Regions from separate parts of the Homo sapiens genome. Here all the other regions are reported to be linked to region 3. Evidence: microRNA targets listed by miRTarBase, many of them from high-throughput screens and not tested one by one. Region 3 holds a microRNA gene; each other region holds the end of a gene's coding sequence.
What was found. Region 3 holds the annotated microRNA hsa-miR-3929 (GAGGCUGAUGUGAGUAGACCACU, at 2,393-2,415, opposite strand). A microRNA usually pairs through its seed, bases 2 to 8, with sites in the 3' UTR of a target mRNA and lowers its output. Matches are read on the target gene's strand: a 7mer-m8 pairs with bases 2 to 8, a 7mer-A1 pairs with bases 2 to 7 and ends in A, and an 8mer does both.

Region 1 (4,102 bases), not on the chromosome of region 3:
TAAGGGAAATGTGTGTGGTTTATATTGTAGATACATGCACACACAGCAGGATAAATTTTCATTTTAATGCTCATTAAGAATTTAATTGTACTTAATATATTTTGCAGTTATAAAGGAAATAGAAAAATAAAGTCTATCCCATGTGAAATGACTCTCACTGGTATTGTTTTGCCCATAAGAACTTCTGTCTTGTTTCAGTGAAGCAGGGAACAATCACTAATACAACATTTGTATCTCATTTCAGGATGATGATGATGATCCTTTTATGAACACTAGTTCTTTAAGAAGAAATAGAAGATAATATATTTAATGGCACTGAGAAACATGCAAGATACAGGAAAAATGAAAATGTTACAAGCTAAGAGTTTACAGTTTAAGATTTTAAGTATTGTTTCCTGAGCATAACTCCATAAGTAAGAAATTTCTAGTTCACAGACATACAATAGCATTGATTCACCTTGTTTTTTTAACCTGGTTGTTGTAGTAAGAGCTTTGTTTCAATATCACTCTTGAGTAAAGATTAAAATAAAGCTACCATTTTACATTTCTATTTCATAATGAAAAACTATGTCAGTATTTTAATATGGTTACATTTAGCCAAAGTTGAGGGAAAGAGCTTATAAAATTTAACTTCTTCATAATTTTAGTAATTTCCTAGAGGTTCTGGGTTTTCTGAAAGTAAAACAATTTATGCGAACCTATGTCTAAATTCACTGTTTGTTACTATGTATGTTTTTTTCCAATGCTTCTTATAAGACTAAATGATTAGAAGTACCTAATAGTTTGAACAGATATGTTTTTATTTAAAAGAGTAGAATAACCTTTCAGAATTACTGAGTTTTTTATTCCAGTTGTAGCAAAGATTTCAAAAGATTGTGTTCCCATTAAGTGGTAGTAATTTCCTTTATTATTCTGTATCCTTAATGGTGTTCTCTCTCTCTCTCTCTCTCTCTCTCTCTCCCTCTCCCCCCCGTTCCCCACTCTTCCTTTCTCCTTTGCTTTTTCTTCTCTTTCATACATATATGCGTGCCTAGTTCTAGGAGGAAACGGGTTAAAAATTGTTTTAAACTACATCTTGAAAATATTGAAGAATTTGTTTTAGGTAGAGTGGTCAGTTGAACCTTACAGTAAAGTATAGAAATATATTTAATGTGGAATGTCAATGCCAGGATTTCTCATTAACAATATTTTATCTCAACTTTGGTTCCTGTGATACATTTCTGAATGGGCAATTCCAGAAATCTTAGTAGCCCATGTTAAGCTTCTATTTTTTACTTGTTTTCGGGGAGAAATAAGAATTAGACATCTTCAGATTTAAGTTAAATAATCCCATTCTTTATAATCCTCTGTAAAAAGATCCCTGAGATTATTCCTTCTTCTAGTTTTATGCGACAGCTTTACTTTAAAATTCAAGTTATACATCTTGGGAGTACAATGGCCCGACATTTCTTCATAGGTAGAAACAAATACTTGACTCAGTGATACTCATGACCATTAGAATAGTCATACCTGGAATGTGTCAAATTATAAGAGACAGACACTTGGTTAGTGGCTGCCTCATATAGCACTTTTGAAGAGGCCTAAGTCAAAACTTGCAATATAACATTCTATTGACTTTCTTAAAAATATTTTTTCTGTACCTAACTTGAGCATAAGGGTTATTTGAGCAAGTAACATTAACTCAGTGGAAGGCATTGTCCTGTGAAATATTCTTAGGCAGATCTGCCCACATCTTTATTGAACTTGAAATCTAATATTTCTAGTATTTGAACAAAGCAGAAGGTTAAGTCAGGGAAGAGCAGTGCTGTCCATGATGTAATGGAAGCTACCAGGGGAGGCAGTGTCTGGATGATGCTGTGCTACCTACCCCTGCACAAGCCATGCTGGCTCAGTCTGAGCTGTGGGCCACATCAGCTAGTGGCTCTTCTCATGCATCAGTTAGGTGGGTCTGGGTGAGAGTTATAGTGAGGGAATGGTCACTAAAGTATCCTGACAAGTTCCTAGGAAAAAAGGAATAAAGTTTTTTTCCTTAAAAAAAAAAAAATTGCTCTTGGCTGTGAAAAGAGGTACTAAATGCGATTCAGTTCACCGCTAAGGAAAGTGATGACATAGCAGTTACAGAGGGTGATAAATCTCTCCAGCTAATTCAGGTCATTTTGTGAATACTATGTATCAAGCCCTGAAAATATGGTAAATAAAACGTGACAGGGAAACCTTTTTTTGATTGAATATTGTTACATAGTTAAATGTGCTATATATCCTTAATATTTTATATTGATCCTGCAAAATCTGTTGGTTTTAGGGGAGTTTTGTTTTTTGTTTCTAACAATTTTCAGACCTGTTGGTATAGGAATGTAGAAGTCTTTCAGATGATTTGAAAGCAGCTGCATTTGCTCTTGGAGGCTTTGGGAGAGCAGGAATGAAAACATTCAGAGGAAGACATCTGTAGGGAATTCTTCTGTTACTTACCAAAGAATAAGTGTCTTTCTGGTGTTTTATTTCCTATCATAAAAATACAACAGTGCATTTACAAGGTTAAAGATTCCTCGAAGTTCTAGGAAATTCTTGAAAATATAAGTGGTGCTTAGAAAATTCAAGCATTTAGGAATGTGACCTTTAATTCAGGTATGTAAAAGACTTTTTTCCCAAACTTTTAAAAGTAGGAAATACAATAAATACAGAAAAGTCATATGGTTGAATAAATAATTATAAATTGAGCACTGATGGAATCCCTCTACAGGTCAAGAAATAGCGCAGTGTCCTGGATGCCCATTATATTGTTTTCTCCTTTCTGGGTAACAAGCCCTAACTTCTGTAATTTAAAAGCTCCTACTTTTGCCACAAGGTGGTGCTTCTGCCATTAGACGCAGTTAGGAGGATGCAACTGCAAATCTAAAATTACGAAGTTAGTGTAGTTGCAATAAACTTAGAACATATGCATTAATACTAAACCTATGCAGTAATACCATAATTAGCCTTCTAATCATGTAATTTGCTTTACTTAGGTATTTCATTTGGTTCAGCCTGTTATGGAATTTACCAGCTTGATAAATTTGCCTATAAAGTTTTATAAAGAAAAGGAATATTTTGTTTTCATAAAGAGGAAAATCCATTCTTAGAAAAAAACTGAGTAAAAAAGTATCTCAATGGGCTGGGTGCAGTGGCTCATGCCTTTAATCCCAGCACTTTGGGAGGCCGAGGAGGGGGTTCACCTGAGGTCAGGAGTTTGAGACCAGCCTGGCCAACATGGTGAAACCTCGTCTCTACTAAAAATACAAAAGATTAGCTGGGCATGGTGGTGTGTGCCTGTAATCTTAGCTACTCAGGAGGCTGAGGCAGGAGAATCGCTTGAACCCAGGAGGCAGAGGTTGCAGTGAGCCGAGATTGTGCCATTGCACTGCAGCCTGGGCAACAAGAGTGAAACTCAATCTCAAAAAAAAAAAAAGTATCTAAATGTAAAATATCTTTTTTGGAAATATAGAATTTAAAAGCGACTTTCCCCCAAAGAAATCTGATGTCCTTTTTGTATCTGTCATAAATTTAATTCATAGTATTTTGGGTTTTTTTTGTTTTTTTTTTTTGAGACGGAGTCTCGCACTCTTGCCCAGGCTGGAGGGCAGGGGCACCATTTCGGCTCACTGCAAGCTCCACGCCATTCTCCTGCCTCAGCCTCCCAAGTAGCTGGGACTACAGGCGCCCACCACCACGCCTGGCTAATTTTTTTTTTTTTTTTTTTGTATTTTTAGTAGAGACAGGGTTTTTCTGTGTTAGCCAGGATGGTCTCGATCTCCTGACCTTGTGATCCACCCACCTCAGCCTCCCAAAGTGCTGGGATTACAGGCCTGAGCCACCACGCCCAGCCTATTTTGTGTTTTTTTAAAGCTAACTACCATTAAGATCATTATAGAAGTTTGGTATAATGAAGATTTGGGTTTTTCAGTCCAATGAGTTTCCATATTCTTGAATGAAAAAGATCCACATTTCATCATTTGCCTGTTTCATTTTCTTTTAGTACTTTTGAACTTAGTTTGGTCAGAAAATACTAGAATTTTAGTTTGATCTAAAGAACCAGCTTATATAACTTGCTGTTGCCATGTACATT
Region 2 (4,107 bases), not on the chromosome of region 3:
TGTTAGACCTAGGGACAGAGTGAAGTTAATTAATTGCCTTTACCCACCTCCCCTGCCATTGTTTAGCCAGCTGAGGAGGCTCACTTCATTATGTTTACAATGCTTTTGTTTTTTTTTAGAGTCAACAAACACTCGGGTCCTATACTTCAGCATCTTTTCAATGTTCTGTCTCATTGGACTAGCTACCTGGCAGGTCTTCTACCTGCGACGCTTCTTCAAGGCCAAGAAATTGATTGAGTAATGAATGAGGCATATTCTCCTCCCACCTTGTACCTCAGCCAGCAGAACATCGCTGGGACGTGCCTGGCCTAAGGCATCCTACCAACAGCACCATCAAGGCACGTTGGAGCTTTCTTGCCAGAACTGATCTCTTTTGGTGTGGGAGGACATGGGGTACCACCTACACCCAACAAGTCAATGAGGGACTTCTTTTTAATTTGGTAGGATTTTGACTGGTTTTGCAACAATAGGTCTATTATTAGAGTCACCTATGACAAAAAATAGGGGTTACCTAGATAATGCCAAAGTCAGCATTTGTCCTGGGTTCCCTTGTGTGATCTGTTTGGACTATGTTTTCTTTTCTTCTCCCACTTGCTCAGCAGCTTGGGCTTCCATTCTAGTTCTTTTACCAAGATTTTTGTGTGACCATGTTGACTTCATTTGGATTGCCCTCTTTCAATTTCCTTGTGAAAACACCCTTAACTTTCTCTTTACCCTTAGCTGAAATGTTTACATAGCTTCTGGTGATATCTTTTCATGATTTTATATCTCTTAAAATGGTGATGGATGTGACACCTCATAAAAGTGAGCTTTGAACTGTAGATAACTCTTAAAGAAAATGTCATTTTAGACAATTAAAATATTTGTGCTCAACTGCTTGAACTTTTTTCGTGTATGTGTATTTAATTCTATGCAATATTATCACATGTGTAGATTCATGTGACCACCATCACAAGAGACAGAACAGTTCTGTCACATGGATCCCTTGCACTGCCCTTTTACAGCCGCAGCCACATCCCTTTCTTATACCCTCACCCCAACCTGTGGCTACCACTGTTCTGTCCTCCATCTCTGTAATTTTGTCATTTCAAGAATGTTGTATGAATGGAATCATACAGAATGTAATCTTACGAGGCTGATCTTTTTTCATTCAGCATAATTCCCTTGAAATCCATCCAAGTTGTTGCATGTATGAATAGTTTCTTCCTTTTTTTCTTTTAAAAATGTTTTATATATTTAGGGGGTATAAGTACAGATTTCTTACATGCATATATTGCATCGTGGTGAAGTGGGGGCAGTTCCTTTTGATTGCTGAGTAGTATTCCATGGTATGGATGTACCACAGTTTGCTTAACCATTCACCCACTAAAGGACATAAGAGTTGTTTTCAGTTTTTTGCCCTAATAAAGCTGCTGTGAACATTCATGTACAGGTTTTTATGTGAACATACATTTTCATTTTCTGGGATAAATGCTCAAAAGGGCAACTGTTGGGTTGTATGGTAAACACATATATTTTTGTAAGAAACTACCCTACTCTTTTTCCAGAGTGGCTCTACTTTTTACATACAGCCACTCATACAATTCAGACAGCAATGTATGATTGATCCAGTTTCTTCACATCCTCACCAGCATTTGGTATTACTACTATTTTTTATCTTAACCATTCACATAGATGTGTGTAATGATACCACATGTGGTTTTAATTTGCATTTCCAATGGCTAATGATGTTGAGTATCTTTTTGTGTGCTAATTTGCCATCTATGTATCCTCTTCGGTGAAATGTCTTCATGTCTTTTGTCTATTTTCTATTTAGGTCATTTGTTCTTTTTACTATTGAGTTTTGAGAGGTTTTTTATATATCCTAGATAAAATTCCTCTGTTAGATATGTGGTTGCTTGAATTTTTAACATAACTTCTACCAAGGAAAAATAAGTAAAATTTCCAACCCTTGCATGGCCAGTCACTTACTTAATTCCTGTCCTTCAGTGTTCCATCTAGAGAATTAAGAGATATGATGTATAAAATAGACATCGAGGGCCATTAAGAGAGTAAATACTTAAAAATACATGTTATGAAAGCAAAGCCAATAATCACTGTAGGAGTATGAGTTGCCTAAGGGCCAAAACTAATGTAAATAAGAGAAAGTGTGGATATAAATGACCATTGTTTATAAACAGTTATGAAAAATGCTGTGACTTGAAATCTTTCCCACATCTCCCAAGAAAGTAGGTAGGAGTTTATCCTTTCCGTAATCTCTTTTTAACCCTGCTGACTATTACAGGGCTTGTTTAATCACAGTGGCAAGAATTACATGTATCTTACAGTAAAGAAACAGAATACTGGAATCGTTAGAGAACCCTGATGTGTTGACCTGGATAAAGTACAAAGGTGGAAGAGGGAATGAGTTATGCTGTTAAAATCTCAGGCTATTCTGTTAATGTTCCTGCTACTATGAACCCAAACTTTTTTTTTCCCCCTTTTGACTCCTTGTGTCTTCCTCTCCTGTGGCATAAAAGTAGTTCTGTCGTTAACTTGTACAACATTGCCATCTGCTGTTGAGAATTGGTAGGTACTGCTTCTGAGAACCTGGCTGCAGATCCTTAGCATAGGCAGCAAATGTTGAGAAAGTCTATCTGTAGTATTACATATACTAAGTTACAGAGGATGCATCCAAGTAGAGAAAATAATATGTGGGTTAAGATACATCCTTAAACTTTTTTTTTTTTGGGGGGGGGGGGACGGAGTCTTGCTGCAACGCCCAGGCTGGAGTGCAATGGCACTATCTCAGCTCGCTGCAACCTTCACCTCCTGGGTTCAAGCAATTCTCCTGCCTCAGCCTCCTGAGTAGCTGGGAATATAGGTGCACACCACCATGCCTGGCTAATTTTTGTATTTTCAGTAGAAGCAGAGTTTCACCATATTGGCCAGGTTGGTCTCGAACTCCTGACCTCAAGTGATCTGCCTGCCTCAGCCTCCCAAAGTGCTGGGATTACACGCGTGAGCCACCACACCCAGCCTCCATCTTTAAACTTTTAAATGTGAAATTTCTATCATGTACCGTTAGCCTAACAAGATTTTCTTTCCTATTTCTGACTGGTGCCTTTCCCCTTTTTAGGAGCAACGAAAGCTACTCTCTTAGTTATGTTCTTGTGATGTGACAAAATGTCAAGAAGATAGGAGAAGAGAATATTTTATTTCGTTGATGCTTTTGTTCCCAAGTGTGACCCTAAACTTAAGCTTTGTAGGAGTTGACATTCTTTCATGTCCCTTCCCTTTACTCATGCCGAAACTATCAACTGGGACATTTTGTGCTTTTGGTTTAAAAGTTAATTGATATTATACTTTGGTTTTATCTAAAAAGTAAATGTATTTGCCTTTGACAAAAGACTGACACAAGAGCAAATAAGCTTTAAAATCGGGTGTTATGTGCTTTCCTCCATTTTTGAGCATATTATCCAAAATGGTCTGTATAATATAAATGAGAATGATGCAGTTTAAGTAAGCCTTGTTATACCATTGTCATGGACCCCTGTCATAAAGCCATTTCTTGGTTTGTTTGGGAAAGAGGCATATGGGATTTATACAGATTCACTTGTAAATGTTGGATTGGGGATTTTTGTGTAAATTTTCTCAAATAAAGGCTAGCAGAAACCATTTTAGGTGTACTGTTACTCTTGAGTACTTCTATGTCTGGATTGGTGATAATTCTTCCATATTTCTCTTTTAAATTATGGCAAATTATACCTGATGAATTAGAGAAAAAATATTGTTATTCTTCAGTTACTGCAGATCGATAGTTTATATGAGCTAGTAAAAGATTATCATATTTTGTATGTAATATATGTAAATTATATATATATATATAATTAAGAATCCTTAATTATGCATCCTCAGACCAAATATGGTTCTGTAAGCTAGGCATTTTATTCTCTTTATCTTCTCTCTTTTGGAAACTGTTACTATTAGGTTCGCACAAAAGTAATTGTGGTTTTTGCAATTAAAATTGCAATTGCATAGAATCACTCCTACAGAGAGCCATCTCCCCTGCCTTTCATTCCTAAAAGACCCCCACCCCCCACCCCCGGTATATGAATCCTCAGGACT
Region 3 (4,123 bases):
AGCTTGAGAGGTGAAGGTTGCAGTAAGCTGAGATCACATCACTGCACTCTAGCATGGGTGACAGAGGGAGACCCTATCTCAAAAAAAGATAAATTGCGTAGAAGGGAATAAGAATATAAATGATGGCCAACTTTTCATCAGATAAACATAGGCCAGAAAATAATGGAACCACACAGTTAAAGTGCGGGGGTAGGGGGAACACTGTCAACCTAGAATTTGATATCCAAACAAAATATTCTCCAAGAATGAAAGTAAGAAAAATATTTTCAGGCAAATAAAAACTACCTGAGTTCATTGCTGGCAGATCTACATTATAAGAAATGCTAAGGCATGAGAAAATAAAGCCAAAACTAATGAAAGAGAAAGCAGACAAACAACAGACAAATAACAGAGCCAAAATATGGTTCTTTAAAAATACGAATAAAAACTATATACCTCTACCTGGACGAAGAAAGGAAAAAAGAAGACACAAATTAGCAATATCAAGAATGAAATCAGGGACACCAGTATAGAGCCAATAGACATTTAAAACATAATAAGGCAATATATGAATACTTTATGCCAATAAATTTGTCAATTTGGATAAAATGGAATAATCCTTTGAAAAATAAAAATAACACACAATGAAAAAATGTTACTAGCCTTATACTTAGTAAAGAAATTGAACGTATTATCAAAAATCTTCACACAAAGAAAATTCTAGACTCAGATAGTTTCTTTGTTGATTCTGTCAAACATTTGAGAAAGAAATGACATCAAATATAGACAAACTCTTTCTAAAACACAAGAGAAGAGAACACTGTCTGAATCACTTTTATGAGGCCTATATAAATTTGATACCAAAAAACTAGCAAATATATTACAATAAAAGAAAACTACAGAATATCCCTCATGAACCTAAACAAACTACTAGCAAATCAAATACAAAAATACATGCAAAAGTTCATATTCCATGAAGAAGTAGGTGTATCACAAGAGTGCAATGTTGATTTAACATATTAAATTGTCAATGTAATCCACCATATTAACAAAACGAAAGAGAAGACAAATATGTAATCATTTCATAAGCAGAAACATTATTTCCCTAAGTTCAACTGCCATTTATGATAATGGTGAAATATTGTCCTCTTTTATTATCAAGAACAAGCTAAAAATGTTTACTGTCACCACTTCTGTTCAACATTGTACTGGAGGTCCTAGGCAGTAAAATAAAACAAAATGAAATAATAGGCATAAAGATTGAAAATTAAGAAGTAAAACTCCCTTTGTGTATAAATGACATCATTGTTTGCAAAGAGAATCCTGAGGAATTTATGTAAAAATAGCAAGGTCACAGAATACAAGATCAATCTGAAAAAATCAATTATATTTCGATTTACTACCAGCAAAAAAAAAGTTTAAAAACCAATTTTATTTATAATGATATCTAGAACATTAAATACTTAGAAATAAGGTTAACAAAAGGTATTTAATAACTCTATGCAGAAAACTATGAATTTAGAAGACCTAAATACATGGAGAGGCATTTCATGTTCATAAGTTGAAAAACCCAATGCTTTTATAATATACAGTCTCCTCAGATTGATCTATAGATTCAATGCAATCTGACTGATAATTAGGTCAAGTTTTCAGAGAAACTGACATATTGATTCTGACATTTATATGGAAATACTAAGGTCCTAGGATCTCTAAATTAATACTGACAAGACAGAATATGAGGACTTCCACAACCTGAGTTTGAGGCTCCAGTAGCCAAGCTAATGTACACAAAGCAAGTTTATGCAAATACATGAATAAAACACAACAGGCAGCCTAGACCTAGACTCACACCTATAAGGTTACTTAATGACTGACAAAGCCACCGAAGCTCCAATGGGAAAAGTAAGCGCTTTTCTAGAAATGATGCTGGAAAAATAGATATCCATATGGGGAAGAAAATGAATCTCAATTCCTATCTCAACTCATGCACAAAATTAATTCAATATGGATGATAGACCTAAACATAATACAGCTAAAATTATAGTAGTCCCCCTTTAACCACAGTTTTGCTTTCCATGGTTTCAGTTACCCTCAGCCAACCAAAGGGACATGTGGCTCATCATCCACTCACATCCAAAAAACTAAAAGAGAAATTTTAGAAATAAATAATTCATCCCTTTTTAAAAAAATTTTTTTGAGACAGAATCTCACTCTGTCACCCAGGCTGGAGTGCAATGGCGCAGTCTTGGCTCACTGCAGCCTTGGTCTCTCAGGCTCAAGCAATCCTCCAACCTCAGCCCCCTGAGTATCTGGGACTATAGACATGCACCACCACGCCTGGTTAATTTTTGTATTTTTTGTAAAGATAGGAGTTCGCCATGTTGCCCAGGCTGGTCTTGAACTCCCGGGCTCAAGTGGTCTACTCACATCAGCCTCCCAAAGTGCTGGGATTACTGGTGTGAGCCACTGCACCTGGCCAACTCATACGTTTTAAATTGTGTGCTGTTCTGAGTAGCATGATGAAATCTCAGGCCATCTGTCCCGTCCCTCCTAGGATGTGAATCATCCCTTTGTCTCGTGGATCTACACTGTAGATGCTACCTGCCTATGGGTCATTTAGTAGCCATCTGGGTTATCAGATCAACTGCCGTGACATCACAGTGCTGATGTTCAAGTAACCCTTATTTTAGTTCGTAATGGCCCCAGTGTGCAAGAATAGTGGTGCTGGCATATCATTATAATTGTCTGTTTTATTATAATTTGCTGTAATCTCTTCCTGTGCCTAATTTATAAATTAAACTTTATAATAATATAATATTATATATAATATAATATAATTTATAAATTAAACTTTATAATAATACATATAGGAAAACAACACAGTATATATACAGTTCTTTAGTATCCATGGTTTCAGGTATCCACTGGGGGGTCTTGGAATATGTCCCCAGCAGATAAGCAGGGTATACTATATAGAACTGTCAGGAGAAAAATATTTGAAACCTGAGAATAGGCAAAGATTTCATAGGTCACAATTATAATGATATGCCAGCATCACTTGTCCATGACAAGGTGCTTTACAGAGGCCATTGTCTCCTTTTAGCTAGGCAGTGAAAAGCACATTACAAGTAAAGAAAACAGCAGTTTTCTTAGACTGTTTACTTTGCAATAAAGGAATACCTGAAACTGGGTAATTTATAAAGAACAGGGGTTTATTTGGCTCATGCTTCTGCAGCCTATACAGGAAGCATAGGGCCTCAGAAGCTTCCAATCATGGCAGCAGGTGAAGGGGAGCCAGTATATCACGTAGTGAGAGAGGGAGCAAGAGAGAGAAGGAAGTCTCAGGCTCTTTTAAATAACCAGATCTTGGGCGAATTGGTAGAGCAAGAACTCCCTCATTACTGCAAGGATGGCACCAGGCCACTCAAGAGGGATCCACCCCTGTGATGCAAACACCTCCCACTAGGCCCACCTCCAACATTGGGGTTGCCATTCCAACGTGAGATTTGTAGGGCACAAGTATCCAAACTATATCAATGTCCTCTGAGTGTGTGTGTGTGCACGCGTGAACTCATGGGGTTTCTTATTCTCATAAATTCTGGCAGTCCTCTATTAATTACTTACTTCAGACACAAATTATAACCAGATATGGGACAATATAGTTACTAGGGAAAAAAGTTTACTTTCTAAAAAGAATTGGCATATTCTTTGGTTAATTAAGAGGAGAAAGTATCCAGAACCCTTTTCCAGTTCTCTTTGCAGAAGCGTATAATTGCTTTAAGGGTCTTTCTGGCGAAAAGTGATTAGAGGATACATTCCGCCAAGCACCAGGCTGCTCCCTCGGCATGTCCCCCACTTCTGCTGATGCACTAACGTGTCTCAAATCAGTTGCCAATTGGCAGGTGAATCCTATAAAACTGCAAACCTCTGGTGGAGAAACATTATATAAAAGGAATGTAATTGCAGGAAGCTTTCCACCTGCCCCATTCTAGAGGCATCGCAAAGCAGATTTTGTCTAAAGGCTTACCAGAAAGTGAGAGGGCTCCAAAAGGACTTAGAAGGCCCATCAAGCACAACCTGGCATTGTTCATCCCTAATAATTATATGTGCAGAGTTTTATAGTAGCTCTTCTCCTAGTGGTTCT
Region 4 (4,123 bases), not on the chromosome of region 3:
TTCAAAAAGAAGTCCTTCAGGCCAAGTAGCAAAGAAAGTCTCCTTCAGGGCACAGACACCTCCTAAGAATAGTCTCCCTTCTAGAGACCCCAGGCAGGGGGAGTCCCAAAGCAATTTTCATAACCCTGAGCCCTTACCTGCCCTTTTGCCCACTGCTTTCAAAGTGCCCAGGGACTGCATCGGCTGTGTGCAAAGCCAGTTCTTAAGAGAAGGTGCCCAGGCGGAGACTCTGTCCTCCCTATAAAAAGCAAAATCATCACAAAAAGACTAAAGGAACAGGCATTCACCATCCGCTCTCAGTGGGTGAACATATCTACGCTCTAAACGCTCAGTACAAAGGCCCAGAAGGAAAGGTGGCCCCCAAAACAGCACTAACTATAGCCTCACTTCTGAGACAGCAGTACTGGTTGCACACACACAGGAGTTTCATTTAAGACCTACATTCAATTAATATTTGCTGAACATTAAATGAATAACACTTAATGGGCTCCTTATTCATGGGAGACAGACACATTCCCCAAGCCCTAGACAGCAGTCTCAGGAAACTGCCTCCACCAACTGTTCGCCAGAACTAGGGGGTCTGACTTTTCACTTTGCTCCCTCTAGAGCCACAGAATGGCAGAGAAACAAACAGCCTGGGTAAGCTCTCAGAATGAATCATCACTGCAACTCATCAGAGCTGCTGAAACATGCTACCTGTTTTGTTTTTCTTTTGTAGTTCCTACCCAAGACAGATCAATTGGAATGGAAAACTCTGAGTGCTACCAGAGGTAAAACTGGGTGAAGAAGGCAAGAGAAGACTTTCAGCCTCTTGATCACCAGCACGACCATACTGTTTCAGAAAGCTGGGTGGTGGTGGAGGCGCTCTCTCAATGGCTATTCAAGTCTTCTCCACTAAAACTTGGTTGGGTAGAGGAAATTAAATTGAGTCCTGGTACCTGGTCAAAATCATTAGAAGTTTACCTGGCTTCTCAAGTTATCTTCTTCCCTGGTTCAGACTGTTGGTAAGAGCTGTCCAGATACCCAGATGGGAAGGAAGGAGACAGCCGCGCGCTTCACTCCATTTGTCACCTCATGCATGGACCATACTCTGGGTTTGAGATCATTCTTCATTGAAGTTTGTAAAAATAGGTTGAAATTGTAAAGCTCCATGATCATTGCTATATGTAGATATATTTCAATTTAAGCAAAACAAGCTGCAAGTTATTCCCTGGCATGCTCAAAGGATTTTCGTGCTTTTCACTTAATAGTCCAAAGTCTCTTAAATTCCTGCTGCAGACATCAATAGCTTATCTATATTCTCAAACACCAAAAGGAAAAGTTGAATCTTGCTCTCTTTGGTATACTAATGTAGTGGTATGCTAAGCTGGCTCATACCAACTTAGAAAAGCTGATTGTAAAATTTTCATTTTGACAGCTGGTTATTAAATGCAGCCATTATTAAAAATCAAATCATACAAACTTATAATTAAATCAATTACATTTAAAACAAAGGTAATAAATATTCAAAGCATATCACTTCCTAATTTGATCTTGATGCTCTTGAGGTAATTTACGTCCATGGTACCTGTGTGGTGGAATTACTATATATGATGGTGTGCTACTGTGCACCTTGTCTCAACTCCACTCTTCGTGATAGCATGTTGGTAGCTTGAAATCAGCCTGGTGGGAGTATTACCATGGACACTGGCAAAAGCTACAGATCCCGGAGAGCCAGTGGTTAAACATTTACCAGCATACCACTGCTAGTAATCAAGGCTAACTGGTCCAGAAATCGCCCAGGAGAATGAAATGGATGTTCCATTTTTTTCTACTGACATTGACTAGCATATAAAAGGTATAGAAACAGCACTAAGACTTTCTGAAAATACCTAATGAAAATTTTACATCTTTTTTTGTTTTTGTTTTTGTTTTTGAGACAGAGTCTCACTCTGTTGCCAGGCTGGAATGCAGTGGCGTCATCTCGGCTCACTGCAACCTCCGCCTCCCAGTTTCAAGCGATTCTCCTGCCTCAGCCTCCCAAGTAGCTGTGACTACAGGCGCATGCCATCACGCACAGCTAATTTTTTGTATTTTTAGTAGAGACGGGATTTCACCGTGTTAGCCAGGATGGTCTTGATCTCCTGACCTCATGATCTGCCCGTCTCGGCCTCCCAAAGTGCTGGGATTACAGGCGTGAGCCACTGCACCCAGCCAAAAATTTTACATCTTTTATAGAGGGAAAAAAACTCTTTATACCATGGCAAGGCCTTTTCTTTCACAAAAAGCTGGGCCTACTGAACAATTCAAGCTGTGCAGTAGTAGACTGAAAGCAGGATTTGTTGAGGAGTTACAGCTCCTGTCCAGAGCAAATCCTGTAGTGATACAAGGAGAATGTAAACTTGCCAGCTTAGACAGGGATCAGTCCTGAGACTGCTGGCAGTAGCAAATGGCTATTAGAGTAACTGTATAATGGTTTTGCCTGCACTTTCTCTATGTATATACAAATGTACATGTATAAATATAAAAATTAAGTGATCATGGTTCTTGGTAACCTGTCCCAAGTGCTGTGATTCACACGCCTGACACTAAAAGGTTCTTCCTGGTCCAGTCAGCCAGCTGTGACCACCAGCAGCACAGCTGAGTGCTGAGAATCTGGCTGGAAAGAGAAACGTGGCTCAAGTGCTGGCTCACCTTCTAGCTGTGTGGCCCTGGGCAGGTTACTGAGGCTCTTCCAACCTCACTTTTCACATGTAAAATGGCATTTCTAAAAGTACCTACCCTACCTCAAAGGAATTCTGAAAAAAGTAAGTGAATTTGTATAAAGCAAAGCACTCACAATATGCCTGACACACAAACTGCTTAATAAATGTTAGTAATTTTTAAAACCTCCTCATAAGCGGCTTAGAAATTATTCATGTTTGGTACATATTTATTGCAAGTCAAGCAGATCCAACTTTTTTGAAAGCTGGTGGTCTAGGAGTATAGTTTTAATTATATTTGTAAATACTCAAAAGTATTAGATGCCAGTCTAATTTAAATGCAGTCTGACTGTAGCGAGTAACTGACCTGGGCAATGAAAAAGCAGTTGTATTTTTCTTGTGGTTTTTCAAGAAAATATCCTTTTTATACAGATTTAGAAAGAAGAATCAATGGCTATATCGAAGTTGATTGTGACTAATTTGTTAATACAGAAAACAACATTAACACAAATCTAAGAGTACCTTTCCTAAAATAAAATATTTAAACTTATTAAGTGTGTTATCCATTATGAAGAACAATTGATCCTCTTGCATACACTCAGAAACAAATGGTCTGATGTTCCCCAGAGGCAGGTCTCTCTCATACTAATAAGTTAATGTGGCTTATATTTTAGAAGAAAGAAAACTGTCTCACAAGGGAAACTCTGAATTTTTTTAAAAAAAGATAAATAAATAAATAAATAAATAACCTCTCATAGCAGGGCTAAGTGCCACTATTCCCTATTACATAAAATCAGAATAAGGAATAAGGAAAAGGCAGGTCGATTCTTACACCACACGCTTCTCAGTTACACAAGTAGGACTTTCTTCCTCATCTTCCTTTCAGGAATTTGGACATTTCAGAATCCTGTGGAATCACCCTGTTCCCAGATTTTCCTCTGCTACTTGTATATGGAAATCTAACCCATCAGGCACATCGGATTCACTAAAAGAAGACACAGTGACATAGAGTTCTTTTAGAGTGAATTTCGTTTATTCAGTCAAAAAGGATTTGTTAAGCACCTGCTATGTTCAAGGCACTAATCTAGGTACAGACATACAGTGGTGACTGAGACAGAAGTCCCTGCCTCACAAGGATTATACCGCAGGTGAAGACATACAGACAGCAAACAAATACTACACGTAACATGCCACAGGGTGAGGGGTAATGTAGCACCATAGAGAAACATACATACAGGGAATATGGAATAGGATATGGGAATGCCACAGGGTGAGGGGTAATGTAGCACCATAAAGAAACATACAGGGAGTATGGAATGGGAATAGGGAATGTCAAGAGATGCTCTAGGGCCAGGCACAGTGGCTCACACCTGTAATCCCAACACTTTGGGAGGCTGAGGCAGGCGGATCACCTGAGATCAGGAGTTCAAGACCAGCCTGGC
Region 5 (4,123 bases), not on the chromosome of region 3:
GGTTCAAGCGATTCTTCTGCCTCAGCCTCCCAAGTAGCTGGGACTACAGGTGCCTGCCACCACGCCCAGCTAATTTTTTGTATTATTAGTAGAGATGGGATTTCACCGTGTTAGCCAGGAAGGTCTCGATCTCCTGACGTCGTGATCTGCCCGCCTCGGCCTCCCAAAGTGCTGGGATTACAGGCGTGAGCCACCGCGCCCGGCCAATTTGAATGACTTTTGTAACAACTCAGATCTCAAGTTTGTTACTGATTTCTCTTTTTTTTTCTTTTAAGGAATGTGTTTACTGTGAAAACAAGGAAAAAGGTAATATTTGCATACCATATGAGGAAGATATTCCTTCTCTGGGACTCAGCGAAGTGTCGGACACCAAAGAAGACGAAAATGGATCCCCCTTGAATCACAGGATCGAAGAGCAGACGTAACCCCTGCCCCACCTCAGCCCGGCAGCCAGCGAGGTACACCAGGTGGTGCTTGGAAGAGATGAAAGATCTTCATGGCTGTTTCCACTGAAATGGACACATATGCTCATGTTGCTTTTTTTGTTTTAGAAAAAAAAACAACATAGTTTTCTGAAGGGGCGACTTAAAACTGTGGAGAGTGGGGAGAGTTCGGAAAGAAATATGTTTTTATATATAAAATATATATGTGGAGTTTTGTGGGATGGGGAAGAGATTTTAGTTGTTATTTAACTTGAGAAAGACTAAGCGCCTCTTAGTGTCAGGGAAGTTGCCTCAGTGCTCCCAGAAGTCCTGTGACTGTGACGAGACCTCTGTCTGCTGCACCAGCTGGGGACTCTGGCTTCCAGAGCTTTCCCAGGGTGTTTGGATCAGATCAAATTTTGTCCTCTCTTGGGGACTGCTTTTTATCTGAATTATCATTTAGTCAAGGTAGAGTGTTTTTTTATACATACCAAATGGAGATAGCAGCCTCTCCTAGTTTTATTTCAAAACGTTTCACATTAAATGGTGTGAAGCGTTGTTTGGCAAACCAACAGCTTTGGCTTCTGGTGTGGTCAATATTTCAGTCTGACATAGGTTTTGTTTGTAGTGAACAAAGTTGAAACATTTGCTCTGGACTAAAGAAGCCTAGTGGTTTGTGTGGCCAACTCCATCGGATGAATGCACACGCAGACAGACCCTCTGTATATTTCTGCATTATTCTTGTCTCCTTTTCAGACCATGATGGCCAATATGGAGATTAAAATATGTCATCAGTCATCTCTTTATGGTGACTTCCCTTTGCAAACCAGGCTGTGACCAACACATGTGAGACCCAGTCCTGTTTGGTTTTCTTCCGTTGGAACCACCCAGACATCTGCTTCCACCCAGCCAAGCCCACATCACATCTCCTGGCCGAGAGCAGCCACTGCCACTCAGTCTGACAGCTTGCGACTGCATCTGTATTTTCAGGGGTGCAGTGAGCTCACCTCTCCCACTGCACCCTGGGTTGGGTGCACAGCCCTCATTCTTTTCATGAGCCCGACCTCTCTCGGAGCAGCTTCAGGCCTCTGCCAGTGTCCCCAGCACTTTTAGGTCATTTGGACACTTGGGGAAAAGTGAGGCCAGTCTGCCCGGCTTTTTACAAAACCTCATGTTGCATTGTATATTCCAAAGATGGTTCAGAAAATTTAATATTGGTCCCTGGTGGAAATTCAAAGTTATCACTGAAGAACAGTTGACTTAAAATTGGACCAAGACTATGAGGCTTAAAAGGGACCAGGGTTTTCTTTTTTTTTTTTTTTTTTTTTTTTTTTTAGATGGAGTTTCTTTTTGCCCAGGCTGGAGTGCAGTGGCGCCATCTTGGCTCACTGCAACCTCTGCCTCCCAGGTTCAAGCGATTCTCCTGCCTCAGCCTCCTGAGTAGCTGGGACCACAGGCGACTGCCACCACACCCAGCTAATTTTTTGTATTTTTAGTAGAGACAGGGTTTCACCATGTTGGCCAGGCTGGTCTCGAACTCCTGACCTCAAGCGATCCACCCACCTCGGCCTCCCAAAGTGCTGGGATTACAGGCGTGAGCCACCACGCCCAACTGGGACCAGGGTTTTCTGTTTTTTGATGGAGGTGAAATCTCTTTGTAATCCACTAGGTTTTCATCGTAAAACCATCTTATGCCTGACTATTAAACCTATTCTTCATAAACACAAGAACACTTTAATTTTTCGTTAATTTACAAAGTAACATCAGCTGCCTATGCCTATGATAAGGTAGCAGTCTGCATTCTTATGGCCATTAGATGTTACAAACTCCTTGCCTCTAAAGTCAGATCATGAAGGGATAGGTGTTCATCTAAGGTTACAGTTATGTTACCGAAACACAAAACTGCCAAAATCTTACTCTGCTGTTATGAATGTTTACCATCAGCATTATTTTATCATTTAATATGTGCTCACTGATTGTTAACTGTAGCTTCAGCGCGTGCCAAGCAGTTGACTTAATAGGATCATCTTGTGAATTTGTTTACGTGATGCCAAGCATCAAGTCATGTTTTCTTTAGTGTGTGTGCTTACACAGGTGTTAAACAGTTTTTCTCTATTTTAAACTGAGCCTTCTTTTTAATATATTCCCGAAGAGATATGTAAATAAGCTCTCAGAGTTTCTGTGATGATTTGTTGAGCCTTGCTGGACAAGTGGTTTGTTTGTGTGCAAACCAAACTTTCTTTACCCAGTGCAATAGATTTGTTTGACTGCTTGTGTCTTTTTATGACCTGTTTGCCTTTTAGAAAATTGGTAAATAAAGCAAGTATATTTTTATTTTTACTTGTATGTATTTTTCACATAGCACAAAGGAAAACCTGAATAGAGAGCAAAGATTATTTAAAAAAAATTTTTTTAAAGAACTCCAGGAATTCTGCATTAAAGAATCTTACATCCCAAAGGCCTCCTGGCGGTCAGCTCCCTTATAGCGTTTGCTTCTTGCTGGCTCCCTTTCTTCCTGTGCGTGTCACACACACACCCTCCTTCAGGCTGCAGGAGTGAACTCACGTAATGCAAACCTAATCGTGTCATGCCCCACAGTCTTTTCACTTTTAGTTGGAGGGGTGCAGCTGTCTGGCTCAGCCCCAGAGTGCCCCCAGCTCTGCCTCCACGCACCTCTGTCTTCCCTGCATCCCTGCCCTGGGTTACCTGGCCTTTCCAGGCTGGCTGCCTGTCTTCTGGTCATCGGGCTAGGTAGGGCTAAAGGTGGGGCGGTCAGGAGGCTCCACCAGGAAGGTCACATGTCTCCATTGCGAATGATATGGGCAGGGCGGCATAGTCCCCTGACCCCAGCCCTTCTTTCACAGTGATGAATGAAGCCTTGTGAGGCCAAAACTGTGGAAGCCCGAAGAGTTGCTCCCCATCCCTCCCACTCTTCAAACCATGACCCTGGGGGTGGGAGCAGAGAGCTGAATGGATCCTGAACCCAATGCCCAGCCTCTGAGAAGCTCCCTGAGCAGAAGGGAGGGGCTCTCCTCTGCCTGCTAGCCTGGCTGCCTAACGCCAAGTGCTGATGGGATAAAAGGCAAAGTCCTCCCTAGCGAGCACAGAGGCCTCTGCAAACTGCTCTAAATGGCCAGATATGGTTGTTTCACTGAACCTGAGTGCTTTTGGAAGACTCTTAATTGTATTTTTATTTACCATATAACCCCAAGGGATTTATTTCCAAACCAAACGGAGATTCTCTGAGTCTCCTGGGCAGATTGCCCACAAGGGGCCTGGACAGTCTACAGGCCGCAGCTGCCTTTGTTCCCCCAGGGATTTATGGCCTGCCACCCCCACTGCTAACTGGTATCCCCGCAGCAACCACCACCCTGCCCAGCCTCTGCTGGCCTCTGTTCCTGGCTCTAGGGGGATCAAAGGACTCAAATGCTCAGGAAGTCCATACTCAGGCAAACTTTGAAGGCAGGACTGGCCCAAGGGACAAATGGCAGGAAGTGTTGGCTAGGGGAGGCTGCTGTGAAGGAGGGAGGGAGGGCTTGGTGACCTCAAGATAGGCCAGGCTTCTGGGACAAAAAGGCCATGCCAGCTGGCCAGTGCACCGCTAAAGGGAATTGAAGCTGACCTTGCAGAGGGGACCTTGGGCAACTTCCAGTCCAACCAAGAAGGATTTTGCTGATGTACAGCCTTCTCTACTTAAGCTC

Region 1: miRTarBase lists MRE11 as a target of hsa-miR-3929. Seed matches in the 3' UTR shown: 7mer-m8 at 3,020-3,026, 7mer-m8 at 3,666-3,672, 7mer-m8 at 3,813-3,819 and 7mer-A1 at 3,858-3,864.
Region 2: the mRNA of TMED10 is a reported target of hsa-miR-3929. Seed matches in the 3' UTR shown: 7mer-m8 at 2,836-2,842 and 7mer-m8 at 2,971-2,977.
Region 4: the mRNA of SLC60A1 is a reported target of hsa-miR-3929. Seed matches in the 3' UTR shown: 7mer-m8 at 804-810, 7mer-m8 at 1,658-1,664 and 7mer-m8 at 2,012-2,018.
Region 5: miRTarBase lists PER2 as a target of hsa-miR-3929. Seed matches in the 3' UTR shown: 7mer-m8 at 1,851-1,857.

Annotation. Positions count from the first base shown.
Region 1 is chr11:94,416,324-94,420,425 of GRCh38, reverse strand. It overlaps MRE11 (MRE11 double strand break repair nuclease), which reads left to right. Exons shown (of 20, transcript NM_005591.4): 20 at 245-4,102. The coding sequence ends at 301. Among named protein-coding and RNA genes, the nearest start is that of GPR83, 17 kb to the right of the region's middle.
Region 2 is chr14:75,131,019-75,135,125 of GRCh38, reverse strand. It overlaps TMED10 (transmembrane p24 trafficking protein 10), which reads left to right. Exons shown (of 5, transcript NM_006827.6): 5 at 120-3,657. The coding sequence ends at 241. Among named protein-coding and RNA genes, the nearest start is that of NEK9, 6.0 kb to the right of the region's middle.
Region 3 is chr18:35,931,696-35,935,818 of GRCh38, forward strand. It overlaps MIR3929 (microRNA 3929), which reads right to left and starts at 2,447; the gene lies at 2,393-2,447.
Region 4 is chr1:205,599,688-205,603,810 of GRCh38, forward strand. SLC60A1 (solute carrier family 60 member 1) reads left to right here. Exons shown (of 10, transcript NM_181644.5): 10 at 719-3,231. The coding sequence ends at 774. Among named protein-coding and RNA genes, the nearest start is that of ELK4, 30 kb to the right of the region's middle. RefSeq lists an enhancer at 278-1,477.
Region 5 is chr2:238,242,677-238,246,799 of GRCh38, reverse strand. It overlaps PER2 (period circadian regulator 2), which reads left to right. Exons shown (of 23, transcript NM_022817.3): 23 at 276-2,756. The coding sequence ends at 425. Among named protein-coding and RNA genes, the nearest start is that of HES6, 4.7 kb to the right of the region's middle. RefSeq lists an enhancer at 1-652.